3 linked regions of the Homo sapiens genome follow. The protein of the gene in region 1 interacts with the protein of each later gene in a biochemical or structural test. Each region holds a gene or a part of one and is shown in the gene's direction. Other genes may lie near its edges.

Region 1 (7,581 bases):
TTTGTTTAGTAAGTACTATGTATCAGACTTGGTGCTGAGATAAAACTTCTATATAATTTAGGAATGTAGACCCAGAAGGGGAAAAATAGGAAGAAAATAAATTTTAAAAGCTACACTATGCATTTGTATTATTAAGTTTGTAAGAAGATGGCTGTATAAGTGGCTGGAAAAATATTTACAGTTTCAACTTACTTTAACAGACCTAGAGCTTTTAAAGCACTGGTTTTGTGCTTTAGTACAGGTTACAAAAATCTTCTTTCATAATTTAGTGATATCAACTCCTTAAGAAAAGATGGTATCATTGGGGTAATATAGAATACTAAATAGTCACTGTTTGCAAGACACAGTGCCAGATGCTATGTTCTGTGGGGTAGGAAGGGGAGAGAGGACAAGAAATTTTGAAGAGCCACTTGAGTGTGATAGGCTTTTAACTTTAACACTTAGCCCACCTCTTAAAAAATCCCAAATTACCCCAAACAACCACCTATAAAATCACTATTAACTACTACTTTAAACTATTCAAAGATTTTTATTTTTATTGTTAGTAATGGTGTAAAAAGGTATCTCTTCCACTGCTAATAGCAGTATAAATCAGTAAAATTCAGCTGGAGACCACTTTTAACCTTATGTTATAAAGACTTACGATGTTATACATTGTTTAGCCCAGCACTTGTGCATTTAGAACTTTATCCCGAAGAAATAATTACTAGAGTGTGCAAACATTTAGCTGTAACAGCAGAGGTTTATGATAGTGAAAACCTAGGGACAATTGAAAAGTCTAAAAAGAGGATATTAAATAAATTATGATAATACTGACATTAAAATAATATCATAGAAGAATATTTAATGACATGCTTCATAATATTAAGTGAAATGAGCAAGTTACAGAGCAGTATAATCTACTTTTTCTGCATATAAAAAATTACTGTAAGGACATAAACCCATATGTTATTATTGCTAGTTATCTCTAGATGTCAAAATTATGGAAGAAAGTTTTCTTTCTTGTTTTGTAGTTTTTCTAATCTATATTGTTTAAATTATCTGTACTATTCATGTGATTGCAAAGGAAACAGTAAAATGTATATATTTTAAAAATAACTCTATTTCTAGTGTTTTCTTATTATCTTATGAAAACCACTGTCCAATTTCTTTTGTTCTGCTTGCATGGCCCTTTGGAACTGGTGTGGCTTTAAACCAAGGCTGTCTCTTTGAATTCTAAGGTCTACTATACAGTCTGTGAGATGTCTACAGAGCTTGAATGTTCAACAACATATGAAGATGAGTATTGTTTATATTTCCAGTTAGAAATATCATTCTGAGTTTGTAAAAAGATGCAGATATTTTAGCTTAAAATTGAATGGATGCATCAGAGTTAATTAGCAATGCTTCAAATTACAGACCACTGCCTCTTCTTGTGCAACTAACCATCAATTAGCTATGCTAATGAGAAAAGCAGGAAATGATTGCAGGAGAAAATGAAATCAGTAGGGAAAAAAGAAAAACAACTGATTTTAGTCTCTAGTTTCAGCCATCAATTGTCAAAACTTACCAGGATTACATATAAGTATAAATTCTAACCTCTCTTTGAAAGAGGCAGTGTATTAATAAGAAAGTAATGTTAATTCTTTAGAAGTTTTTTCTTTTCTCGATTATCCTTCAGAGATGCCATACCTAAATAATAAAATGACCAGAATATGAGCAGCAGGAAACTTATAGACAAAAGGTTCGTCAGTGGTTCTAGTGTAATCCCTAGGGGAACACTTAAAAAAATATCAGCATAGAGGTCTTTCTCCAAACCATTTAAATCAGAATCTCTGTGGAAGGTGCTAATTAATCCATAAGATGCAAAATGTATTTCAACTTGATTCCAGCTGCTGAATATTTGCTTTACTCTGAGTTCTCTTTTTGGACAGGAAGGGACTCTGATAAACCACCTCTGGTTCTTTCATCCCCACCTCCATCACTCCATTTTTAGGCAGGAGAACTTTCCCAATGAGACAGTCTTACAGGTGTCTCCTGTAGGATCTTTAAATACCTTCCTACTGGCTCTCTTCTCTGTTAAGGGCTTGGATGATTTTCTCAAAGAGAAACTTTTATGAGGGAATGCAGGATTCCTAAGCAGTATCTCCCTACCCAGTGCCATGATAAATATTTGGATGCAAAGAAAACAGGAAATAAGTCATTGAATGGAGATTGCAGCTCCCCAGAGAGCTCCAGATGACAGGCTCCTGGAAAGTGTTCCAAGTTCTGTTTGTTCTCCAGTCCTGAGAACAGTAATCTTTGCGGCTGTACTTTTCCTCTTCTTTCCCTAGATTTCACTTTTACAACTTTAAAAAAGTATAATAGCTTGCATTATATGCTTACTGCACAAAGTTTTAAGACAAAAGAATTACAAATAGCAAAATTGAAATCATCTGTGAGCCTCCCTCTTCCCCACTCCAGAGAAACATATCATTAATGTCATTAATGTATATCTTCCATGTTTTCTATGTGTAGAAACATGTATTTTATTTTACAGAATTGAGTCATCATATATGTACACTTTTGTAACTTGCTTTTTAATCTTAACCTTATGTTTTGAGTTTTCTGGATCATCAAGCTTCAAAATCAAGATTTCTGTGTATGCAGCAAAGCCCATCATAGATATTTACTATCATTTATTTAACCATCCCTCCACATTAGATCTTGATTATTACTTCTGAAATCTGCCTTGTTTTATCTTTTTCCACTATTTATCAGAAAACAAGATCAGCCCTGGTGGGTTCATACCAATTACTTTTCCTAACTGGTGCTTGACATTGTATCCACTAATTTCCTAAAGTCACAGATGATAATTACAGATACTGAACCCTTACACCCTCCTATGCTACATATGCTTTTCTCCAATTTTTGTAACCAGCACTTGCTTAATCGGTGATAATACTGCTTTTCTTCCTTTAGGCTAAGCCACACTCCTCAAAAATCCTGAAGTTTACTTCACCGTCTTCCAAATATGTATGTATGTATGGAAGATTCATCATTTTAGTAGCTAACTTACACTGAATGTTACTGTATATACTGTGACAATAGGTTTATATGATTTTTTAATTTGACCTTTATGATAATAACACGGGGTAAATACTACTATTATTCCCATTTTACAAAGAAAGTGAGGCTTCTTTTGAGTAACTTGCCCAATATCACACACAACTAGTAAGAGGCAAAGCTGGGCCCTGAACCCAGAACTGTTTTCTTCTGAACCATTTTTTTCATTATTATTAACTAAAGTCCGTGTTTATTAAAATTTTCTTAATTTTTACCTAATGGCCTTTTTCTGTTCCGGCATCACACCCAGGATAAAACATTACATTTCTTTGTCATTTTTCATTAGGTTCCTCTTGGCTATGACAATCTCTTAGACTTTACTTGTTTTCTCTAACAGAGTCATCCCTCATCAGCTACAACACCATAGCAGATATAATTCATTGTGCATTACTATGTATGGTTCTGATCCTCACAGCAACCCTCCAAAACAGATGTTTTAATCCTCATTTTATAGATAAGAAAATTGAGGCTTAGGGAGATGAGAACTAATGGTGCAGTTCACAAAGCTGGTAAATAATGGAACTCAGATCCTGACCCAGGACTATCTGACCTTGAGTGTCATGTTCTTTTCACTACTCTGGTTTAGATGACTTATACATGCATGCTTTTTATAAATAAATCTGAATGCTAAAACCAGAGTCAGGGTGCCATAAAGAAAAGTTACATCTGGTTCAACTTTCTTATCTAATATCCAAGCACTTTCTATAGATTATCCAACGAAAATTTCTAAATATATAGTCAAAAGGTATCAGTGTAGTTTGTACACGTTTCCACAAAGCCTTGCCCAATTTTGAACAGTCCTGATTGTTAGAAAGCTCTGTGTTCCTCCAACTGATTTTTATCCTTTGGTCTTAATGTGGCTCTTAGGAGCCAAACACAATCATCTAAGCCTTCTACCTAAGTACCCTGCAGGCAGACACATCTCCCCCAGACTCTCTTTTCCTGGCAGAGTACGGCTTAGTTTATATTTTCCTCAGCATCCTAATGATGCTACTTTAAATCACAGTGACTTGCAGTATCCCTGTTTAGTTGCAAGTCCTTATAGTGCATTTTGGTACAGCAATGTGTATGTCCTATACAATCAGGACTCAATAATTGCTGTTGACTTCTTCCTTAAAGGGAACCACTTACCACCATCACCATCCCTTCTCGCCTCCCCTCTCCACACACTACATTTCTAAATCCTCAAGTCCAAAGGACCCTAACACTGACACTTCTTGCAACCCTTTAAATGAGGCAGCTCTCCCTAGAAAACCCCTTGAGACACAAGTTTGGAAAGTGAGTCAAACGTAAGAGGGATGTCTTCTCCGAGTCTGAGAAGCAAGTTAAAGGGCAAAAGCAGTGAGCCGTGGACGCCTGGAGACAGTTTCTTTCTTCCTGAATTCCCCAAAGCGCAGAGACAGACAGGATCTGCCAGGACAGCGCGCAGGGCGGGGCGGGGACAGGCGCGCCAGGAGCGGGGCGGGCTTCCAGCCGCTGGTTTTGCTGAGGGCTGAGGGACGGCTCAGCGACGCCACGGCCAGCAGCGCTCGCGTCCTCCCCAGCAACAGTTACTCAAAGCTAATCAGATAGCGAAAGAAGCAGGAGAGCAAGTCAAGAAATACGGTGAAGGAGTCCTTCCCAAAGTTGTCTAGGTCCTTCCGCGCCGGTGCCTGGTCTTCGTCGTCAACACCATGGACAGCTCCCGGGAACCGACTCTGGGGCGCTTGGACGCCGCTGGCTTCTGGCAGGTCTGGCAGCGCTTTGATGCGGATGGTGAGTAGAACAAGCCACTTGCACACTCAGGTGTAGACGTGGCTCCAAGCTCAGCCCGCTGAAAGGACCTGGAGTTTCCCCTTTACTGTAGGAAAAGTTATCGACCTGGGTTGTTAATGCAGTGTACCTAATACAGTATCATTAACAGACGTTTGGCATACTGGTGATACACATCTATATACCTTGTTAAAATTCTGGGTGGTGAATTTCCACTTTCCCCTTTCCAATCTCTCTTTGTGTGCGAGCGCGCCATATATATGGTAGACATACATATATATTGTATATACAATGACTAATATCATTGTATATGTTCAAGGCTTGTGGGCTGAGACTCAGCTATTTGAAGTCATCCTTCCCTAAATGGGCTCACTTTTACGCAGTGACTTTGCTGTACACCCCTCACTCTCTCAAAATGAGAATAAATTTTATCAGCTTTCAAAACGACTCCTCCACCAAAAAACTACTTGAAAATAAAATGGAACTACTTAATATTTGTTTTTATTAATAAAGAAATAAAATATCTAAAAGGTGTGTTTTAACTCTGCAAACTGGGATTCAATACTTACACCTGTTAAGTTTCTCCAAGCTTCAGAAATTTTGGGGTTAAATTTTATTGGAAAGTTCACGTTTATTCATTGATTAAAATTCATGTACTTAATAGCCTTCCTTTTCCAAGCACTAATATAAACCCTAGCATAAAGCACGTATTCTGGAACAGTGTTTACTGTTCAAACCCATGTATTCTAGAGGTAGGTGTTGGCACTTTGTTATTGGAATAACAAAAAATAGTGTTGAGGGAAGCTTTATGAATTGTGAGATTAAAAACATATTTAGATAAATACTGTCATGTGTTTTTTATATGTTAGTATTATTTATGTTTATTTTCTCACATTTAGAAAAAGGTTACATAGAAGAGAAGGAACTCGATGCTTTCTTTCTCCACATGTTGATGAAACTGGGTACTGATGTAAGTACTTGCACACTAAGCCTTAATTTATGCCTCTTAGTAAGATACGCACATCCAAGTCTTATATTGATTGGTACCTATTAATTCCAACTCACCTCCTTTCTTCCTTGCATGTATGTAATTTCTCCCCCTCTCCTAGCAACATAGAGGGATTTAGGCAGTTTTTATAAAAGGTGCAACTGTAGCATTAGACATGCTGGTTACTGACTTTCAGTGTAACATCTGTCATCCACTCAGAGATCCTAACTGTAGACTCAGTTAACTTGGTCTTGAACGTCTCCTTGGTTATGTCTCTGCTAATTGATTTATACCTGGGGGTAAAGTAGCCCACTTTGTTCAAAAAGCTGGAAAAGATGTTAAGCACATTAAGATTTTGGGTGTTTAATATGTATGATACTCCTCTGATAGCAAACCACAAACCATTTAAAATCATTTATCCATTATTCATTTTATTAGAAGAGGTTACAGATTTTTCAGGGAATGACAAACCAGAAAACAACCAGCATACTCAGAGCCCAGATACAAATGGAAGCCAATCTATCTAGTGTCCATCTGATGGTAAATATGTCCTTGGGAGATGTAAATGAACTCTTGAAAGTCTCTCTATCAAAGCAGAGAAAAATTTTACACAGAAACACATGAGCGGAGGACAGCCTGGGGATGGGCTCGATCTGATGAAAGCTCCAGTAGGGCATTCATAGTAGAAGGAGACGCTCTAGGGACAATTGAATTTAAATGAATGATGGAGATAGTTTGTCCTTATCATTCAGCTGTTTATCTGAAGAATAGAAGTGCATCACATTCTCATGTGAGAGCTCAGTGAGGGAACAAGGAGCTCTTCACCACTGTTGAGAACATGGGGAGGGTATGTGGGGGGCAGGGGAAGCTGGTTCAGAAACAAAAGGGCTGGCTTCCGCCTTCTTCAGCCACACAGATCTCTTGGTCCCCCTCTACTTCTGTCTGCCTCTCATATTCTGTCTGTCTCTCTTTTTTATGTCTATCTCTGTCATTTTTCTGCTCACTTCTGTTTCTTATCTCTGTGTTTCATGGCTCTCATCTCCTACTGTTTCTTGCCTTTCTCTCTGACCTCTCTGTTGCCCATCTTTCTTGTCTCTGTTTCTCATTTGTTTCTCCATCTCTCTGTCTCTGTGTTTTCCCATTCTTTTTCCAGTCTCTCTGCTTCTCAAAGCTCTTTTGGTCTTTCCTCTCCCCATGTCTTTTATTTCTCCTTTCTTCTTTCTTTCCCATCTCTCTTTTTGACCTTCATTTCTTTTCTCCACATTTTCTCCTTCACCCTTTTCTTTGTCTCTTATCTCCCTTTTTCTGTACCTTTTATTGCTCTTTGTCTGCCTGCACTCCACCCCTTACCCTGTGCAGCCTGTGAAGTGAAAGGATCAGCAGACGAGAAGGATAGAGACACAAGTCCCTTCTTTCCTCTGGTCAGACCACTTGCGCACACTCCTCTTTATCCTTCATTCTTGTACCTACACAAGCTACAGGTAGAGCTGAGGAAGCCTCCCCCAAGTGAGGCTTCTGCTTCAATCTAGCCAGCCACTTTCACGTGCTAGCAGCCCATGGTGAAGCCCACCAGCCTTGCCCACAGGGCTTCTACTTATATCTGTAAATGTAAGGTTCATCGTGTTCCAGAAACCCATCTTATCTATCATGGACATGGGTATTTGAGGAAAGCAAAAAGACAAAGTTAAAACCATTCAAAATCTTGGAATAAATGGGATGGCCAGCTCCTAAAAATCTGTCCTCAGGGACCTGGAACT
Region 2 (7,000 bases), on another chromosome or scaffold:
CTGCGGAGCCGCGGGCCGGGCGGGAACCGCATTCGGGTCCTGGAGGGGCTTGGAGGCCCCAGTCTCGCAGCCCCTTCATCGGGGACCCCCGCTCCCACCTGCCTTGGCCACTGCCCTCAAAGCCCGGCCCCGCTTTCCCCAGGACCCCAAGCGCTGCGCGAGGTCAGCACCAAGGACAGCGCCCGGGCCGAGCGCCTGGCCTCGAACGCCGGGTTCTGCTTTGTGTTTCCAGGTTTTTGTTTTTGGTTATGAGAGGAGGCCTGGCTCTGTCGCCCGGGCTGGCGTCCAGAGGCGCGATCTCGGCTCACTGCAGCCTCGGCCTCCCGAGTAGCTGGGACCGCAGGCGCTCACCACCACGCCTGGCCACAATTTTCCTTTTTTCTTATTTTCTTTTAGATGGAGTTTGGCTCTTGTTGCCCAGGCTGGAGTGCAGTGGCGCGATCTCGGCTCATTGCAACCTCCACTTCCTGGGTTCAAGCTATTCTCCTGCCTCAGCCTCCTGAGTAGCTGGGATTACAGGCGCCCGCCACCACACCTGGCTTATTTTGTACTTTTACTAGAGATGGGGTTTCTCCATCTTGGTCAGGCTGGTCTCAAACTCCTGACCTCAGGTGATTCACCTGCCTCAGCCTCCCAAAGTGCTGGGATTGCAGGCATGAGCCACCACGCCGGGCCGATTTCCTTTTCTGTAGTGATGTTAACAATTTAGTTTATAAAATTATATTTTATTGTTTATTAAATATGTAACATAGGCCAGGTGCGGTGGCTCACACCTGTAATCCCAGCACTTTGGGAGGCCGAGGTGGGTGGATCACCTGAGGTCAGCACTTCAGGGCCAGCCTGGGCAACATGGCAAGACTCCGTGCCTACAAAAAATAAAAAACAAAAAAAATTAGCTGGACATGGAGGCACGCCGGCCTGTGGTCCCAGCTACTTGGGAGACAGAGGTGGGAGGATCACCTGGGGGAGGTGGGCAGAGGTTAAAGTGAGCTGAGGTCATGCCCCTGCATTCTAGCCTGGGCAATAGAGCAAGACCCTATCTAAAAAAAAAAAAGGAACAATATATTTTATTACTTTATCTCAAATTATAATTTTATTAATTTTAACTACAAAAGCAATTAATATATTCTCCTGGTTAAAAAAAACCTTAAATATTGCAGATAAACCTGGTGCCCATCTAGCCACCTCTCTCTATCCAAGTGGGAACAAATTTCTTTTTCTATCCTTCTGGTCCATTTTTTTTAAGTGACCTGTGCATATGGTTTTAAAACTTTAAATAGTATCTAAAACATTTGAACAAAATGAAGCCAACATGTGCTGAATGTTTTCATGTCAAGCTTTGTGCTAAGGCCTGGATGTGGGCACCATTCACACGTTCATCTCACAGATGAGAAAACAGGTCCTGCGAGGCACGCGCCTGGCCCACAGCTGTGCTCGTGCTGGGTCTTGAATCCACTCTGCTCCATTGCTCCTGCTGCCCTGTGCCTCGCTCTGCAGAGGACTTCCCATAGATGTGTTACTCTCTCCACCCCTCCTTTACAGGGGCTGGTGGTTGTGGGTTCCCTGGAACCATAAATTTGGGGTGTCCCAGTGCTTTGGGGAGCAAGGTCCCCGACTCAAGTGGACTGCCAGCAACTAAATTAATGGGGGATCCTCAAAGAGAGTGTTAGGGAGGCAAGCAGTAGGTGGGAAGCTTGGACAAGCCCCAAATGCCTCAGGGACCTTTCTGTATTTTTTTTTTGAGACAGGCTCTTACTCTGTCGCCTGGACTGGCATGATCTAGGCTCACTGCAACCTCCACCCCCCTGGCTCAAGTGATCCTCCCACCTCAGCCTCCTGAGTAGCTGGGGCTATAGGCATGCGTCACCATGCCCAACTAATTTTTTTGTTTTTTGGTAGAGACAGGGTTTCACCATGTTGCCCAGGCTGGTCTTGAACTCCTGGACTCAAGTGATCCACCTCTCTTGGCCTCCCAAACTGCTGGGATTATAAATATGAGCCACCATGGCCAGCTGATTTTTTTGTTTGTTTGTTTGAGATGGAGTCTCACTCTGTCACTCAGGCTGGAGTGCAGTGGAGTGATCTCGGCTCACTGCAACCTCCACCTCCTGGGTTCAAGCAATTCTCCTGCCTTAGCCTCCTGAGTAGCTGGGATTACAGGCACCCGTCACCACACTGGCTAATTTTTTTTTTTTTTTTTTGAGGCGGAGTCTCTATCTGTTGCCCAGGCTGGAGCACGGTGGCACAATCTCGGTTCACTGCAAGCTCCGCCTCCCAGGTTCACGCCATTCTCCTGAGTCAGCCTCCCAAGTAGCTGGGACTACAGGTGCCCGCCACCGCGCCTGGCTAATTTTTTGTATTTTTAGTAGAGACAGGGTTTCACTGTGCCAGCCAGGATGGTCTCGATCTCCTGACCTCATGATCCGCCCACCTCGGCCTCCCAAAGTGCTAGGACCACAGACAGGCGTGAGCCACTGCGTCTGGCCTAATTTTTGTATTTTTAGTAGAGATGGGGTTTCACCATGTTGGTCAGGCTGGTCTCGAACTACTGACCTCGTGATCCACCCGCCTTGGCCTCCCAAAGTGCTGGGATTGCAGGCGTGAGCCACCGCGCCCGGCCTTTTTTTTTTTTTTTTTTAAGATAGGGTTTCACTCTTGTCCCACAGGCTGGTGTGCAGTGGCTTGATCTCAGCTCACTGCAACCTCTGCCCCCTGGGTTCAAGCGATTCTCGTGTCTCAGACTCTGAAACAACTGAAATTACAGGTGCGCGCTACCACGCCCGGCTAATTTTTGTATTTTTAGTAGGGACAGGGTTTTGCCCTGTTGTCCAGGTTGGTCCTGAACTCCTGACTTCAAGTGATCTGCCTGCCTCAGCCTCCCAAAGTGCTGGGATTATAGGCATGAGCCACCACACCCAGCCTGAATCATTTTTGTAATTTAAAAATTTAACGCAAAAAGAATAAAACTTAGCAATAACAAAAATGCACAAAAGATGGAAAGAAATCCACCCCTGACCTTTGTGGAGAGATGACCTCTGATAACAGTCTCAGGGTGAACGGGCACCTCTGATAACAGTCTCAGGGTGAACGGGCATCCCGAGACACTGTTAGCAGAGGTGGTCCATGTCCATGCTGTCCGCGTTACAATAATTACACTATGTTTATTCTTAAGGTTTTAAAAACATTTATTTTTAACAAATTTTCTTTGAAAAGCTACCGTGTGCACGTGAGAAAATCTCAACAAGACCACAGGGCACCCGTGAGAAGAAGCTCCTCCCAGTCTGGGGCCCCTCCCCAGGCACAGCCTTCCACACATCTACCAGAGGCACCCACGCATAGAGAAGCACCCACAAGCAGTTTTCTTTCTTTCTTTTATTTGAGACGGTGTTTCCTTCTGTTGCCCAGGCTTGAGTGCAGTGGCATGACATAAGCTCACTGCAACCTCCACCTCCCGAGTTCGTGTGATTCTCCGCCTCAGCCTCCCAAGCAGCTGGGATTACAGGTGCTCGCCACCACGCCTGGCTAATTTTTGTATTTTTAGTAGAGACAGGGTTTTGCCATGTTGGCCAGGCTGGTCTTGAACTCCTGACCTCAGATGATCCACTGCCTCAGCCTCCCAAAGTACTGGGATTACAGGCGTGAGCCACCGTGCCTGGCACAAGCAGTTTTCTCCCCTTCCTTCCTTCCTTCCTTCCTTCCTTCCTTCCTTCCTTCCTTCCTCTCTCTCTCTCTTTCCTTTCTTTCTTCCTTCATTCCTTCCTTCCTTCCTTCCTTCCTTTCTTTCTGACAGTCTCGCACTATTGCCCAGGCTGGAGTGCAGTGGCGCGATCTCGACTCACCACAACCTCTGCCTCCTGGGTTCAAGCAATTCTCCTGCCTCAGCCTCTCGAGTAGCTGGGAGTACAGGTGCGCGCCACCATGCCTGGCTAATTTTTGTATTTTTGGGAGAGATGGAGTTTCACTATGTTGGCCAGGCTGGTCTCGAACTCCTGACCTCGTGACCCACCCGCCTCTGCCTCCCAAAGTGCAGGGATTATGGGGGTGAGCCACCGTGCCCAGCTATGAGTGGTTTTGTTTCTATTTATTTATTATTATTCTATGAGACAGAGTCTCACTCTGTCGCCCACGCTGGAGTACAGTGGTGCAATCTTGGCTTACTGCAACCTCCGTCTCCTGGGTTCAAGCAATTCTTCTGCCTCAGCTTCCGGAGTAGCTGGAACGTGTGAGCCACCACCCCTGGCTAATTTTTGTATTTTTAGTAGAGACAGGCTGGTCTCGAACTCCTGACTTCCGGTGATCTGCCCACCTCAGCCTCCCAAATTGTTGGTATTACAGGCGTGAGCCACCGCACCTGGCCTCTATTTATTTATTTATTTTGAGATGGGGTCTTGATATGAATTCCTAGACTCATGCTTCTCATGCTTGCTACCACCCAGTCCTGCCTCCTGCACAGCAGTTTCCACTAAAGTCACCCCTTTACGAGAGGCATCTTTTTTTTTTTTTTGAGATGGTGTCTCACTCTGTCGCCCAGGCTGGAGTGCAATGGCATGATCTCAGCTCACTGCAAGCTCCACCTCCTGGGTTCAAGTGATTCTCCTGCTTCAGCCTCCCGAGTAGCTGGGACTACAGGCACCCGCCACCATTCCCGGCTAATTTTTTGTATCTTTAGTAGAGACGGGGTTTCACCATGTTAGCCAGGATGGTCTCGATCTCCTGACTTCGTGATCCACCCGCCTCGGCCTCCCAAAGTGTTGGGATTACAGGCATGAGCCACTGTACCTGGCCTACTAGAGGCATCTTAAAACACATCTCCTGTGTCTCCATTCCAAAGCGCATCTTTGTCTACACTCCTGGGGTCCTCCCACGTCAGCCTCCCAAAGTGCTGGGATTACAGTCATGAGCCACTGTGCCCGGCCCCACCAAATTGTTTTCTAACCTGCTTTTTTCTTGAGGAATCTTCTGCAGCACATGACTCACATGTAGAGCCCCTTGTTTCTTGAGGCCTTCATACCCGTCAGCTCATCTAAAAGTCACTCCTGAGGAGTAAGGGCAAGGGGCATTGGGAGAGGTCAGGCAGCCCTGGGAAGCCTCCCAGCGTGTGTCCCAGGAGGCCTGCTGCCTGCAGACACTGCTCCCAGACGCAGCGGCCTCGGCCATCAGAGCGTGTCCCACGATGAGGTGGCAACTTCCCTGAAGGGCTTGCTCTCACCCAGGGGTGTGGTTCTCCGTGTGCACACAGATAGATAGTTCTACGTTTGCCATATACCATTTATATGCCTCACACAGATTAACCCACTTTCATTTCAAAAAGACCTCCTGTCATCGTGCCCATTGTACAGATGAGGACACTGAGACACGGAATCCTAGTGACCTGTGCAAGGTCACACAGCTGGGAAGGGTGAGGGAAGCGTCTGTGAACCCAGCAGGCCCAGCCCCTGAGTCTAGGCTCCGCTCGGCAGCTGTCATGGGAGCAGAGTCCGAGAAGCACTGCAGGCACCTGCTCTAGGGGGAGAGAGGTGGAGGTGGCAGGTAGAGAGAGGACGACCCCTGGGAGCTGAGACGATGCCAGCCTCACACGGACAGGCTGGGTGACCTCAGGCAAGTCGCTTCCCATTTGGGACCCCAAGGACCCTTCTGCAGACCCAGCTGGGGGTCCCCGATGAGACTGGCTCTCAGAGTCCCTGTGAGTCCCGTCAGCTGAGGCCAGTAATGTCCTGGCACCATCACTGGACATGGTTTGCTCTCCCATGGAGGGGCAGGTGTAGCAGCCAAAAGCGATCCTGAGCTCTGGGCCTCTGAACCCTGCTCTGCCAGCTACTGTGGGTGTCTCTACCCGCTCTGTGTCTCAGTTCCCTTTCCTGAAAAGAGGGGATAGTAAAAACTAACCCTCAAGGTGTTTATTACCAATGCCCTTCATGGAGGAATCCGCTGCTCCAGGCCCTTGCCAGCAGCTGCACAGCTGGGCCTGGGGACCTGGGTGTGGGTCTGTTGAACCTTGGCCCACCCTGGGGCTGTGGTCGGCCTGGACGTGTAGGTGTGGAGGTGCATATTTATTATGGCAATTTTCTGACAGGTAACAGAGTGTGGGGCTCTCTTCTGAATGGGGCTCGTGGAGGCCGTGGGTCAAAAGCCCTAATTTTGTAGTGAGGGCTAAAAGGCTTCACAAGGGAAAGGGCCTGGCTGGGGCTATGGGCCGGTGCCGACCCCCCCTCTCCCACTTTGTTTGCAGTTCTGGGAAGTCATCAGTGATGAGCATGGCATCGACCCCAGCGGCAACTACGTGGGCGACTCGGACTTGCAGCTGGAGCGGATCAGCGTCTACTACAACGAGGCCTCTTGTGAGTGCCTGCCCCAGCCTCCCTATCCCAGCCCTGGACTGACCAGGTCTCAGCGTCTGACTGACCAGGTCTCAGCACCTGGACTCACCAGCTCTCAGCATCTCTGTCCTCCCATGGGTTAGGTTGGCTGAGATGCCAGCAGGCGTAACTGGATGTCAGGCATCCAGACGCACAGAACAGACAATAAATCACAGTCACAAAAGTGAGAGCCAAACATATTAGTGCCATGAGGGCCTGTGCGTGTCCAGGGGCACAGACAGGGATGGGGCAGGCCAGAGACTTTGGAGGCCATAAGAGGGCCTAGAGAAGGGGTCACCTGGAGGGCTTAGTCAGGGGCTCTTTAGCAACTGGTGTGAAGTGATTTCCATATCAAAGTGGTGATACACCCACCTGCCCACATGGACATGTGATTTAAAATTTTATTTAATTTAATAGAGACAGTCTCGATATGTTGCCCAGGCTGGTCTCGAACTCCTGGACTCAAGCGATCCACCTGCCTTGGCCTCCCAAAGTGTTGGGAGTGCAGACACGAGCCCCTGCATCTGGTGGACGTCTGACTGAATCCTGCCTGTCCTGCTCCGTCCTGTCCTGCTCCGTCCTTAAACACAGTGAGGCTTAAGGGTGAAGAAAGTTGCTGAAGCTTGCCTTTGGTCCAGGACTCT
Region 3 (7,430 bases), on another chromosome or scaffold:
AACAGAGATGGGTTTGAATCTCAGCTCCTCTTTTTTTTCTTTTTTTTTGAGATAGAGTCTCGCTCTGTCACCTAGGCTGGAGTACAGCGGCGTGATCTCAGCTCACTGCAGTCTCCCCCTCTCGGGTTCAAGTGATTTTCCTGTCTCAGCCTCCCAAGTAGCTGGGACTACAGGCGCCCGCCACCATGCCCGGCTAATTTTTTGTAGTTTTAGTAGAGACAGGGTTTCACCGTGTTAGCCAGGATGGTCTCGATCTCCTGACCTTGTGATCCACCCGCCTTGGCCTCCCAAAGTGCTGGGATTACAGGAGTGAGCCACTGTGCCCGGCCCTCAGCTCCTGTTGTAGCCATAATGCTTTGGGCGAGTTCACATCTCTGGTCCTCAGTGTTTTGCCTGTTCAATGTTGGCAATGTCGCTGTCCTCACGATGGTGGCTGAGACAAGGAGTCAGTGAGATAAGGCACATGGTCCTCATTCAATAAGCCCAGCTGACAGGGTTGTCATTCACCTTTGCACCCCATGCGCGTACCCCATGCCTCCATGCCTCACACCCAGTGAGAGGGGCTAGGCTCATTTTGGGTGGTACCCAGGCCTGGCCTAAGCCCTGTCCCTCCCTGCAGGCCCCCAGTATGGCACACTGGAGAAGGCCTGGCATGCCTTTTTCACGGCGGCTGAGCGGCTGAGCGCGCTGCACCTGGAGGTGCGGGAGAAGCTGCAAGGGCAGGACAGTGAGCGGGTGCGCGCCTGGCAGCGGGGGGCTTTCCACCGGCCTGTGCTGGGCGGCTTCCGCGAGAGCCGGGCGGCCGAGGACGGCTTCCGCAAGGCCCAGAAGCCCTGGCTGAAGAGGCTGAAGGAGGTGAGGCTGGGTGGGGGAGGTATCCGAGACAGGCTCCTTCCTGTTTGTTTGCAAGGGATCGAGGGGGCCAAGGTGTGGCATCCAGGGTCCAGAGTGGTCTCCATGCATGCCAGGTTGAGGCTTCCAAGAAAAGCTACCACGCAGCCCGGAAGGATGAGAAGACCGCCCAGACGAGGGAGAGCCACGCAAAGGCAGACAGCGCCGTCTCCCAGGAGCAGCTGCGCAAACTGCAGGAACGGGTGGAACGCTGTGCCAAGGAGGCCGAGAAGGTACAGGCCACAGGTCCCAGCCCTGGCCCCCGCCCAGGGCACGGCTTCCTGAATGAATCTTGCTCCCTGAACATCTTGTCCAGTCCCCAGCACCCTTATTACCCTATTCCTCACCTGCCACCCTCTCTCCAGATGATCATTTAAAGGAGGAACCTGACAAAAGGTGATGCTTTACTAGGGAAAGAAATGGAGTTTCAGGCACTGGGATGACTTCAGCAGTTGAGAACTTCCAGCTCTTTTCCTTGCACAGTACCCTTTGCCCGAAGTGTCCTTTCCTGCAGCTCTGGATATGCAAATCCTCCCCATCCTGAGATGCTGCAGTTTCCACCTCCTCCAGGAAGCCTTTTCTGATTTCTCCCATCCTTTCCTGTAGGTTGACCTCATTTCAATCCTCACCAGACTCTTTTATATGCTGTGCCTGATGTCACCTCCCTTGTTAGGCTGCTGGGGTCCTTGAGGGCAGGAGCTGGGTCTTGGGACTGATTGCCCCTAGTGGCTAGCCCTGGGTCTAGCAGCCTATGGCAGTGTCTGGTAAACACTGGTGGAGTCCTGGGTGGAAGAAGGTCTGGTTCTCACCAGGCCCCTCCTCTCCCACCCAGACAAAAGCTCAGTATGAGCAGACGCTGGCAGAGCTGCATCGCTACACTCCACGCTACATGGAGGACATGGAACAGGCCTTTGAGACCTGCCAGGCCGCCGAGCGCCAGCGGCTTCTTTTCTTCAAGGATATGCTGCTCACCTTACACCAGCACCTGGACCTTTCCAGCAGTGAGAAGTATGAACTGCCTGGTGGGCATGGAGATCTGGGGTAGTACTGGGTCTCCTCCATCTCCCCGAGGCCCTGGCTGGGACTGAGGGATGCAGGGTCTAGACTTCCTAGACTGAGGGGTGTGCCTTGGGTCATAGGTTCCATGAACTCCACCGTGACTTGCACCAGGGCATTGAGGCAGCCAGTGACGAAGAGGATCTGCGCTGGTGGCGCAGCACCCACGGGCCAGGCATGGCCATGAACTGGCCACAGTTCGAGGCATGTGTTCCAGGCGGGGTGGGGATGGGAGGTGGGATGGGCTCCCACTCAGCTCGGCCAGGGCTAGGGATGAAGTAAGTGAAGGTGGTTCAGATGGCCCCACCTGACTATAAGCACTGTCCCCACAGGAGTGGTCCTTGGACACACAGAGGACAATCAGCCGGAAAGAGAAGGGTGGCCGGAGCCCTGATGAGGTTACCCTGACCAGCATTGTGCCTACAAGAGATGGCACCGCACCCCCACCCCAGTCCCCGGGGTCCCCAGGGTGAGAGCCAGGAGCGCGGCTGTGGCAAAGAAACAGCTCTGCCTCCCGCCCTCCTTTCCTTTCTCCTTGGTTTCATTTCTTTCACACCTGAAATGGGTTGAAAATTGGTGCCAGGGACCTGAGGGCCTACTTAGTAGTTGTAATGATACTGGTTCTCATAGTGGTTTAGATTTGCTGGGCATTTCCCACATTCCCTCTCGTTTATGCCTTAAATCAGCTGCGTGTGGCAGGAATTGCCTCTTTGCTCACAGTCGGGCATGGCGAGGTAGAGCTAGAATCTTTAGTACCTCACCTGACTCTCCCAGGTGCCTCTGGGGGTAGGGAGGCCTTTGCCCTGATCCTGGGTGAGATCTCCAGCCCCGTGTTCCTTGCACTCTGAGCTGCTCCCTTTGCCTCCCCTCTCCAGCACGGGGCAGGATGAGGAGTGGTCAGATGAAGAGAGTCCCCGGAAGGCTGCCACCGGGGTTCGGGTGAGGGCACTCTATGACTACGCTGGCCAGGAAGCTGATGAGCTGAGCTTCCGAGCAGGTACCCTGGGACCCCTTTCCTAGCTTCAGCCTCTGCCTTATCTGCCTGAGCAGGGGTGTCAGAAAGGGAAGCCAAATACCCACTTCTTAAGGGCCAGTCCTCTGTCCCTTCAGCTGTTCCAGGTCCAGATAGCTGGTGCCTGGTGGCTGCATTCAGGGTCTGGGGTGGGGCAGCTTGCTGACCTTGACCTGCCTCTGCCTGAGCCATGTCTTTGCTAGCTGGGCTCTGGGACCACACCATCCCCCTCAGTCCTTGACCCAGTTGCAGGAACAGGGCCTGGGCCAGGGCCACTGGCAGTGACCAATCCCCTTTCCCCCAGGGGAGGAGCTGCTGAAGATGAGTGAGGAGGACGAGCAGGGCTGGTGCCAAGGCCAGTTGCAGAGTGGCCGCATTGGCCTGTACCCTGCCAACTACGTGGAGTGTGTGGGCGCCTGAGTGTCCTGACAGCCCTTCTGCAACGTTTACCCACCCTGGTTCAGAGCCCAGCTTCTCCTGGAGAGCCGGACCCTCAGGGCCCTGAACCGTCGCTCTCTGGCTGCTCCTCTGTCCCTTGAGGGAGGAAGTCCTGGGACCCAGGGAGGGGAGGGGCCTTTGTCTAGGGAAGGGACTGGTAGGGAAGGGACGAGTCTAGGCTGAGGGCAAGATGGGAGGTCAGAGGTGACAGAAGCGTTCAGGGGTGCCTGGGCCTCCCCAGGAGCTGTGGACTCAGTTCCTGACCTCTGCTTTGGGGTTCCTGGGGTGGGCTTGGGGTGAGTGTAGTTCTGGCCTAGCAGCACCCTCTTGTGGCTTGTTCTAGCGTGTATTAAAACTTGACACACACCCACACACAAAAACAAAAACACCACTGTCGGGCTCATGTGCATTTTTTTGATAGGACACCCTTGCCAGGCCACCAGAGGGCATCTAGAGAGAGGCCTAGCGTCTGTTATGGGGCCGGGGTTGGAAAAGGGTTTGCCTGCTTGGTACCTGCTCTGGAACTTCGAGATACTAATCTGGAGTGGAGGGGACTCGCTGTCAGGCTTGCTGTTAACCGAGAACGGCTGAAGGCTGGGCGAGACGCGGGCCAATGCGTCTGCCCGTTCGGGCCGGAGGGACGAGGAGTGTTTGGGCAGCCTAATCCTTATTCATCGATCTGTAATTAGCTGGAGTGGGGGTCCCCGCCCCCAGCCTCCCGCAGCCTGCGCGGCGTGGGGGCGACTCCACCTGGGGGTTGCGGCGTGGGAGGGGCGGGGGGAAGGGTACTACGCGCGCGAGGAGGTTTGGGCCGGTCCGCGCGCCGTCGCCCCGCCCCGGCTGCGGATTGGCCCGGCGCGGCGTTGATTCTTGCGGCCGCGGTTGTCGTCGCCGCCCCCGTCCCGCCGGCTGCCCATTGGTCCAGATCGGACTCCAATCACCCCACCCCTCGGCTGGCCCAGGCACCGCTGAGGCCGGCCTGGTGAGCCCGCCCTCCCCGCCGTGGATTGGCCCGCGGCGGGACCCGTCAGCCGCGGTTGTGTCTGGGAAGGAGAGAAAATGGCGGCGGAGCCGAACAAGACCGAAATCCAGACTCTTTTTAAGAGGCTTCGCGCAGTTCCAACCAACAAGGTGCGTGAGCAGGGGGCGCGCGGAGTCTCTCGTCCCGCTGGGGCCTGAGGGAGGGAGAAGGGCGGAGGTGGGTTATGTTTCTGGGGTGTCGGTGCCTGGCCTTTACTCGGGGCCCCTGACGATTCGCTCATCGCCGCCTCCACCCAGGCCTGTTTCGACTGCGGCGCCAAGAATCCGAGTTGGGCCAGCATCACGTACGGTGTTTTCTTGTGCATTGACTGTTCCGGGGTGCACCGCTCCCTGGGCGTCCATCTGAGCTTCATCAGGTAGGCTCTCCGCGCGGTTGCCGTGTTTCCACCCGGCCGGCCAGGGGTGTCTGGGCAACAAGGGAGAGTGGCTGCCTCGACTTGGGCCGCTCTGAATTCGGTGGGAAGCCTCTGGGCCGAGAGGGTCCGGTAGCCTCCTGCCAGAGGGAACCACCTGTGTGGGCCCTTTGGCACATGGGCGGTCCGTCTCCGCCTCTGGGCCAAAACTTCCTCTTTTTTGACGGTCAGGCTTGAGACTCTGAGCGTTAGTTGAGGGGAAAGGGAGGCATTGACCTTGTTGTTGCTGATATGTTGTTAGACCAGTATGTCTCTAGTGAGACTGTGACCATCCATTAGGGGAAAGCCAAATCCAGGCGTGCGTGCCTGAGAATGTGACCTCCTTTCGGATCTGGGGACATAATTAGTACTCTTTGGAGTAAATGAACGAAGAGGAGAGTTTTCATGGACAGGGTAGTGTGGAGGAAATGGGGTGATGGCTGATTAATGTTTCCTGGGTGCCTACAGCAGCCTGAGGCCAAGTGACAGGTATCCGGGTTGCCAGGGAAATCCTGCTGGTATCTGCTAGTGGGTGAGACGCAGCCCTTGTACACAGGTCCACAGAGTTGGATTCCAACTGGAACTGGTTCCAGCTGAGGTGTATGCAGGTCGGCGGGAATGCCAATGCGGTAAAGCTCCTTCTACTTCCCTCACCTTCCATTCTTCTGCCTGGTTACTAACTTTGCACGACTCCCTAAGAGGCCCTGTCGTTTTCCCTGTTCAGAGGGTTCTCTGTTCTATAACACCACCATAAGCTATTTTCTGAAAACTTCGAAACTGGTCACAGCTTCTCTTAAATGGGTTTCAGATTCCAATTAAACTGGGCAGGTGTTCTTGGGGAAAAGCCACAGGAGTTGGGAGCCTTCACAGTCATTGGGTCTTGTGGGCCTGCCCTGGATGAAGGATGGGGAGGCTGGGTATGGGATGTTGTGCTCAGGCAGCGTTCAGTGGGGCCTGGACTTCAGTCATATCAGAGGATGGCCCGCTGCAAGGTGTTTTTTGCAGGAATTTCGAGAAACTTTATCTCTGAAAAACCGGTGTCAGTAGCGTGTATCATCCTGTATAGATAATAACTTCGCTGTCATAAGGAGATGTCTCCTACAGCCAACACGTTTCCTTCTTGAGAATCACCCGTAGCACGCGCTGCTCTCTTCTTTGCTCTCCAGACGGCTTTTTTTCGCCAACATGGATGCACAGCCAATGATGCCAACACCAAATATAATAGCCGAGCTGCCCAGATGTACCGGGAGAAGATCCGGCAGCTGGGGAGTGCGGCCCTGGCTAGGCATGGCACTGATGTAAGTGCCTGTTCTTGGGGCTGGGGCAGGAGGGTTAGGAGTATTCAGAGCCCTGTGTTTTAGGGGTGTCTTCTCCTTTCTAGCTTTGGATAGACAACATGAGTAGTGCCGTTCCTAATCACTCCCCAGAGAAGAAGGACTCTGATTTCTTCACAGAACACACTCAAGTGAGTGCCCACAAGGAACCGTTTTCCCAGTTGTTCTTGACAGGCAATTTACCAAGGCCCAGGCCTTCTGTGATCATGGTTGTAGATTCCATTTGCTTTGATGTGATGTCTTGGACACCACGTATGAAGTCCACTGTTCCTGCTGGGTAGGCCTAGGTGTTTCCTCCTCCATAAATGGAGGTGCAGTGTAGCCCTCCTTAGAAATCGACTCCTATAAATTGGGCTGGCGGGGAAGAGAGGCAGCTTCTTGAAGTTTCAAGAGGTGTCCGGTGCCCCAAACAAATTTTCCTGGATTCTTCCCCTATAAGAAAGGCACTGTGGGCCGGGCGCAGTGGCTCACGCCTGTAATCCCAGCACTTTGGGAGGCCGAGGCGGGTGGATCATGAGGTCAGGAGATCGAGACCATCCTGGCTAACAAGGTGAAACCCCGTCTCTACTAAAAATACAAAAAATTAGCCGGGCGCGGTGGCGGGCGCCTGTAGTCCCAGCTACTTGGGAGGCTGAGGCAGGAGAATGGCGTGAACCCGGGAAGCGGAGCTTGCAGTGAGCCGAGATTGCGCCACTGCAGTCCGCAGTCCGGCCTGGGCGACAGAGCGAGACTCCGTCTCAAAAAAAAAAAAAAAAAAAAAAAAAAAAAAAAAAAAAAAGGCACTGTGCTTGGGGACAGTGAAAGGATTCTCTCCTCCCCGCCCCACCCCTTTGAGGAGGGTTTCCTCTTTACTGGCCCTGGGTGCTGAAGTTAGACTCTTGGCTTCAATTCCTGTTCTCTACTCCGCATTCCTGTGATGGTGGCCAAGTCACTCAACCTGTCAAAACCTCAGTTTCTAAAATGGCGATGTAGCTCCTTCATAGGGGTTGTAGTGATAATTAAATATATTCATATATGAGGAGCCTTTAGATCTGTGCCTGCCTAGGTGGTGGTAGTTAACTGTCTTTAAGTTAGGAGAATGGGCTCTGGCTCTAAGTAAATAGTGAAGGGGTTGGGGTGGGGGCTGCTTGTCTTCCTGCTTTCTTCCACAGTGAATAGCAACTGTGATCTTGTTTGCTACCCTCCAGTCCCTTTCCTCATGGGTTTGGAGTATGATTTCTTGTCCACAAGGTGCTTGTAGGTCTTGGTGCTTCTTGCCAGCAGGAG

Evidence for each region. The genes of interacting proteins can lie anywhere in the genome.
Region 2: the proteins of SCGN (region 1) and TUBB3 form a complex in vitro, tested with the Homo sapiens proteins (one study listed by BioGRID).
Region 3: the proteins of SCGN (region 1) and ARFGAP2 form a complex in vitro, tested with the Homo sapiens proteins (one study listed by BioGRID).

What each region holds. Positions count from the first base shown.
Region 1 is NC_000006.12:25,647,647-25,655,227, forward strand, and holds the start of SCGN (secretagogin), read left to right. Parts: upstream 1-4,568; 5' UTR 4,569-4,757; coding exon 4,758-4,839; intron 4,840-5,735; coding exon 5,736-5,806; intron 5,807-7,581.
Region 2 is NC_000016.10:89,926,342-89,933,341, forward strand, and holds part of TUBB3 (tubulin beta-3 chain), read left to right. Parts: intron 1-6,229; coding exon 6,230-6,338; intron 6,339-7,000. UniProt on the Homo sapiens protein: Tubulin is the major constituent of microtubules, protein filaments consisting of alpha- and beta-tubulin heterodimers. Microtubules grow by the addition of GTP-tubulin dimers to the microtubule end, where a stabilizing cap forms.
Region 3 is NC_000011.10:47,173,880-47,181,309, reverse strand, and holds the start of ARFGAP2 (ADP-ribosylation factor GTPase-activating protein 2), read left to right. Parts: upstream 1-4,430; 5' UTR 4,431-4,456; coding exon 4,457-4,528; intron 4,529-4,675; coding exon 4,676-4,794; intron 4,795-5,386; coding exon 5,387-5,459; intron 5,460-5,996; coding exon 5,997-6,128; intron 6,129-6,211; coding exon 6,212-6,295; intron 6,296-7,394; coding exon of another isoform or gene 7,395-7,430. Other genes in the region: PACSIN3 (protein kinase C and casein kinase substrate in neurons protein 3), read left to right, coding at 620-855, 969-1,124, 1,724-1,899, 2,031-2,151, 2,280-2,416, 2,823-2,944, 3,264-3,379.